Regions from separate parts of the Homo sapiens genome. Here region 1 is linked to region 2. The links come from fine-mapping of genetic effects on gene expression. A gene starts in region 2. The other region holds a variant in brackets. All regions are shown on one strand. Distances are between the middles of the regions. Region 1 overlaps COL17A1 (collagen type XVII alpha 1 chain). Region 2 holds the start of SLK (STE20 like kinase).

Evidence for each region. PIP is the estimated chance that this variant, and not a neighbour inherited with it, causes the effect.
Region 1: its variant is the best candidate, but not a certain one, in a credible set for the expression of SLK in regulatory T cells (Bossini-Castillo 2019, PIP 0.74).

The regions. Positions count from the first base shown.
Region 1 is chr10:104,039,108-104,042,010 of GRCh38, forward strand. COL17A1 (collagen type XVII alpha 1 chain) reads right to left here. Exons shown (of 56, transcript NM_000494.4): 37 at 2,378-2,431; 38 at 2,196-2,237; 39 at 1,958-2,011; 40 at 1,244-1,303; 41 at 866-892; 42 at 501-533; 43 at 338-412; 44 at 1-14. Among named protein-coding and RNA genes, the nearest start is that of MIR936, 7.6 kb to the right of the region's middle. The variant G/GTGGA (reference allele first, on the strand shown) is at 1,463.
Region 2 is chr10:103,965,449-103,968,351 of GRCh38, forward strand. SLK (STE20 like kinase) reads left to right here and starts at 1,692. Exons shown (of 19, transcript NM_014720.4): 1 at 1,692-2,447. The coding sequence starts at 2,298. LOC102724351 (a long non-coding RNA gene) reads right to left here and starts at 1,597. Exons shown (of 5, transcript XR_007062282.1): 1 at 333-1,597. RefSeq lists silencers at 1,554-2,013, 2,054-2,103, 2,114-2,213.

The DNA.
Region 1 (2,903 bases), 74 kb after region 2:
AACACCTGGATCACCTGGAATCCAAAATGAGAAGTTTGCCTCACCTCCTCCAGGAAGCCTTCCCTGGTTAAGCCAAACCACACTTATTAGTGTGTGTCTCAACAATCGTCCCATGTCTCTTGGCCTCCTTTTTGTAATAATACCACAGCTCCCTTGTACAGAGGCTATATCACCATGTCCTTGTCCCTTCCACCCTCTGGCCTTTCCTTCCTCCAGCCTCTTCTCTCTCCCAAGACTTTACACTGATGAGTACTTGCTGCCATCTCTTCAGGCTCTGGGCTCTGGGCACCAGGCTCACCCCTACTCCTCACCACCTTCTCACTGCTCCCTCACTGACCTTTGTCACCTTTGGGTCCCTGGGGGCCAGGTGGGCCTGGTGGTCCCTGAAGGTTGAGTCCGAAAGAACTGGACCCTGGAAGCCAACAACACACACAGTGCAGTCAGCCAGGGTTTGGAGAGGCTCTGGCCAGAGCCAGAATGGGGCGGGGTTCAGCCCTTACCTGAGGTTGAGAAACCTGGGAGGCCTTGCTCGCCTGAGGAACACACCAAGGGAGGGACAGTCAGCCTCACTTTTCTCACCCACTAACAGCCCTGTAGAGCCTCCCCAAGATCCATGATTGCTGGGGCTGCGTTGCCCTTTGGGCAGTACCTAGAGATGCCACACACACACACACACACACACACACACGCACACGCACACTTGCACTACACCCATGCACACACTCAACCATTCCTAGAGAAACACTGCTCTACTCTTGCTTATTTGCACCAGGTGCCTTTCTATCAAGCTCAAAGCTCTTGGGAGGTGAGCTTTTGCCATCCCCACCCCTACCCCAGGTTTTGTTTGATGCCGGCTCTACTGTACCTTGGTGTCCTCTGGGGCCTGGGGGACCTGAGGGAAAAAGGCAGAGAGCTATGAGACAGGTACCAACCAGGTGTTGTGGTTTCAATGGGCCCATGGAGGAGGGGATAGGGGCTCCAATGCTAGAGCAGATATAGAACTTGGGGTTCCTTGTGCCTCTCCTCTCACTAGGCCAATGTTGGGTGGCTATCCTTTGTAGAGTTTCTGACTATTGTGCCTCCCCCTCTACCTTTGCTCCAGGCTGCTGAGTTCCTAATGGGATAAGGCAGAAGGATGCAAAAATGCCCCAGCTCATTCAGCTTCATCCAAACCCTCCTGGCAACCAGCAGGTAAACAGAGGACACATACTGGCTTCTGGGTTCCCTGATACACTGTTCTCACCTTGGTCTCCCTTGGGACCTGGGGGGCCAGGTGGGCCTGGGGGGCCGGAGAGGAAGGTTTCTGCAGAGGAAGGAAATAGTTTGAGTATGGACACTGATGTTTGTGAAGAAGCAGCACTTTGCACAGCACCTGACAACATAGATGCTCAATCAATACTTGTCAAATAGTTGGATGGGTGGATGGATGGATGAATGGGTGGGTGGATGAATGGGCGGGTGG[G/GTGGA]TGGATGGATGGATGGATGGATGGATGGATAGGTGGATGGATGGATGGATGGATAGGTGGATGGGTAGATGGATGGATAAATGGATGGGTGGATGGATTTTCCACTAGGAACAGGTTCTGGCCTAATGTTTGCTTTAAAGTTATTTCCACAAGTTTCTATGTTGTACGGTCGGCACTTACTTCACGCGCATGTATCCTGCCTACTTTATCAGACCTGGGCTCCCCAAGGATAGGAACCAGGTCTCCCTGGTTAGGCCAGAAGCTCCCCAAGGGCAGAGCTGGCTCCCTCCCTCAGGCCAGACTACCAGGGTGGTTGGGTTGACATGGTTATTCCCTCCATGTGCAGCAAGCAGGAAGATTATATAAACATATCCCCATGGAAGTCAGGAGCAGGAAGCCTGGTGAGTAGGTTGTGACCACAAGGCTACGGCCACAGTCTGTGGCAGGACAAGGGCTGAGGTGGAGAACAGGTGCGACTTGACTCCCTGACATTACCTGAGTTGGACAGGAACGATCCTGGTGGGCCTGGTGGGCCTGGCAAACCCTCCCCTAGGAAAGAGAACCCCCAAGACTTATTAGTGCCAAGAGGGGAGCCAGGAACCCTCTGCTCAGGAGGAGGCAGCAGGGAAGCTCTTTCCTATAAGCCAGCCCAGAGGGCCCTGGGCTCAGGGTCCCATTGCTACCCACCTCTCACCTCCCCCTCCCACCTCCCAGTGGTAAGCTCGGCTCTCACCTGGTGGGCCTCGGGGTCCTGGTGGGCCTGGAATGGAAGGCCCTGCAGAAGAGAGCAAGGAAGAGGCCATGCTGAGCTCAGGGAGCTGATGCCACCCCTGAGGATCTTGGCTTCCTCACTAAGTGCATTGAATCTCCTGTCCCCCAAACTCCCCACCTTCCAAAGGTCTCCAAGATACTCACCTGGTGGCCCGCGTGGGCCGGGTGGGCCTGGGGGACCTTGTAAATTAAGAACTTCTATAGAGAGAAGAAAATAGAAATGAGCAAAAGCTGTCACGAGGCTGCTCTCTGCCACACTTCTCACCTCTCACTGGATCTGCAGTTCCAGGCACTCCAGGCTACCCTCACAGCCCAGACACCAGGCCCTGTGTCATGGCACAAGAGCCTGCAGCACCTCATCTGCTAAGGGTGCCCCTCACTCAGAGGCAGGGCAGGACCATAGTCAAGCTCCCTGACAGCTGATAAGAGCATGTGGAATGATGGGGATACATTGGATTTCGGTGTCAGAAAGTCTGAGTTCAAACCCCTGCTCCCACACGTCTAGCTGGTGACTTTGGGCAAGTTCTCAACCTCTTTCAGCCTCAGTTTCCTCCTCTGTAAACCAAGGTCAAAAAGATCTACATCACGGGGGTGTTGGGAAGACTCGGTGAAACACTGAAGACCAAGCTCCTAACACAGTGATAGCTCAGAGTGAGCGCTGGACCGGGTG
Region 2 (2,903 bases):
CATATAAAAGTGCACACTTGCAGCAAACCACCATGGCACGTGTATACCTATGTAACAAACCTGCACGTTCTGCATGTGTATCCCAGAACTTAAAGTATAATTTTAAAAAAAAGCAAACAAGTACTAGCAAAAAAACCAAATGCACACTTTAAATATGTACAGTTTATTGTATATCAATATATTGCAATAACACTTAAAAAAATAGAAGGATCTCAAGGAATTGAATCATCTTAAGCGTCTTACTGGAAGGGGGGTTTTGCTATGCCATTTTGGGGCTGAAGGGCAAAATGACTGGGGGGGCAGACATTATATAAATAGCAATATATACATACATTGTCTCTGCTCCAGATACCGCCATTCATTCATTCATTCACCAGATCTGCCTTCCTATTATATGCCAGGAATGTTGCCGGGTACTTGGATATCTTGATGAACAACAAACCACTGGCCTGAAAGAGCTCCCGTCTGGTGGAGGAGGGGAAGGTAGGTCACCACCTGACGGATTCCAGCCAACGTCCACACTGCCCCACCAGGGAGTGCTGCCCAAGGGGGCTGGAGGCAGATCAGGAAGTGGGGGCCTTAGCTGAGGTGGAGTCACCAAGAGTGACACCAGGTTTACAGTTGTGGAGGTGGCCAGAAGTTAGTTTTACCCTCAAGGGAGTGTCGCAGTCATCAGTTGAGAAGTGGGGGCCCGGCGCGGTGGCTCACGCCAGTACTTTGGGAGGCCGAGGCGGGCGGATCACGAGGTCAGGAGATCGAGACCATCCTGGCTAACACGGTGAAACCCCGTCTCTACTAAAAATACAAAAAAATTAGCGGGGCGTGGTGGCGGGCGCCTGTAGTCCCAGCTACTCGGGAGGCTGAGGCAGGAGAATAGCGTGAAGCCGGGAGGCGGAGCTTGCGGTGAGCCTAGTTCGCGCCACTGCACTCCAGCCTGGGCGACAGATCGAGACTCCGTCTCAAAAAAAAAAAAAAAAAAAAAAAAAGAAAGAAAGAAAAAAAAGAGAAGTGGTCTTAAACAGTTTTTATGTATCTGTGTCTATCTTGCCTGCACACTTAAAACAACAAGAGTAAGAACTAAGATTGAGCGTTTACGGGTGCAGGGGCCGCGCAAAGGGCTTCCATCTATTGTCTCATTCACAACCTTCTGGTAGGGACTATTAGGATCTTCATTTTACGGCGAGGAAACCGAGGCTCGGAGAGGTCACCTGCCCAAGGTCACAGATCTCTCTCTCCAAAGCTCAAGCTCACAACCACCACACAAACTCCCCTCTCACTGTACCTGGGGCCCGTCTGAGAGCGAAAAAGTCCGCTTTCAGGTCCCAACCCTAACAGGTCCGGCTTTCACTCCACAGTTTTTCCCAGATCCAGAATGGAGACAACATCCGCTAGCACAATCAACAGGGTCGTCCCACGGGGGCCGCTCCATCAAGGCCGTGGACTGACAGGATTTGGGGCTTGGAGGGCAAATGAGAAACAATCGTCAGGGACCGAAGAACAAATGCGTCCATCACACCAGCCCCCCGCACCCCGAGCCCCGTGCTCCGCTCACGCGAACCCTCGGGGGCAGCCAGTCTGAGGGACGTAGCGCGCGTGCGCGGGGCCAGAGGGGACGCCCCCACGCGAGCGCGCGGTGAGCAGGGCGCGTGACCGGGCGGGCGCGCAGCCGGGAAAGCGCGCGGGCGCGCTACGGAGTCGGCGTCGGCGCGCGCTCCAGGCCGAGGCTGTGTGGGCTGGGGAGGGAGACAGGCGGCGGCGGCGGCGCCCCAGACCCGAGGGGACGCGCGGGCCTTGCGCCGCGGGAGCGGACGGCGGCGGAGGAGACCCTAGGCTCGCGGCCCGAGGCGGGAGGGCTCGGCTTCTCGACTGCCCGCCTCCGAGGCCGCCGGCCGCTTCTCTCTCCCAGAGTGGCCGCCGCCCCTGGAGACTCGCCGTGACACGGGCCTAAGCCGCCGCCGCGGGAGTCCTGACCGCTCGGACCCGTCGGATCAGGCCGGGTGGGAGCGAGCTTGCGGGCAGGTGCCGCTCCCGGAGGGTGGGCCGGAGGCGAGGCGCCCACCGCGCGGCTCGCGGGCCGGGCTCGGCGGAGGGGCCGCTCGCGCAGCACCCCCACCGCGGGCCGGAGCCCGGGTCGCCGCCCCGCCTTCTCCCGGGACCGCCCGGCCGGAGCTGCGGGGGCCGAGGGACGCCGCGCCCGCCGCCGCCAGCCGGGCTCGCGCGGGAGAGCAGGGAAGAGAAACTTTGCCTTTTATTGTTTTTAGTCCTTAAGTGCAAGGAACTCTGTGTTGGGAGGAAAAATGTCCTTCTTCAATTTCCGTAAGATCTTCAAGTTGGGGAGCGAGAAGAAGAAGAAGCAGTACGAACACGTGAAGAGGGACCTGAACCCCGAAGACTTTTGGGAGATTATAGGAGAACTGGGCGACGGAGCCTTTGGGAAAGTGTACAAGGTAAGAGGGGGAAAACGGGAAGTTGTACTGCGAAGGTAAAACAGCCACTGGCCTGGAGTGGCGGGAGGACTTCTGCTCCCCTGGTCCTTATCCTGTCCTTCTTTTGACTGTTACGGTTCGATGCAACTTTACTTGGCTGATCATCCAAGGAGTAGCTAAGAAGTCGGGTTTACGGTGGAACAAAATGGGGCCTGGATGGAGTTTAAAGAGCGATTGGAAAAGGAGACAGGGTTATAAAGTCTACTCTTTCAAACTTCAAAGGAAATGAGAGTGTTCTTTAATTTATAGGAGGGGTCTGGTTGTGCCCTTCAAGTATTTTAGAATGAGAAACTCATTGCACTTTGCAGTGGATTTGTCTACTGACTGCATTCGCGTGCATGCTTGTACTCCAACAGTTCTGTTTTTAGGGTCCAGTATATATATTTGGTTGTATCTAGAGCTAATACAGAACTAGTT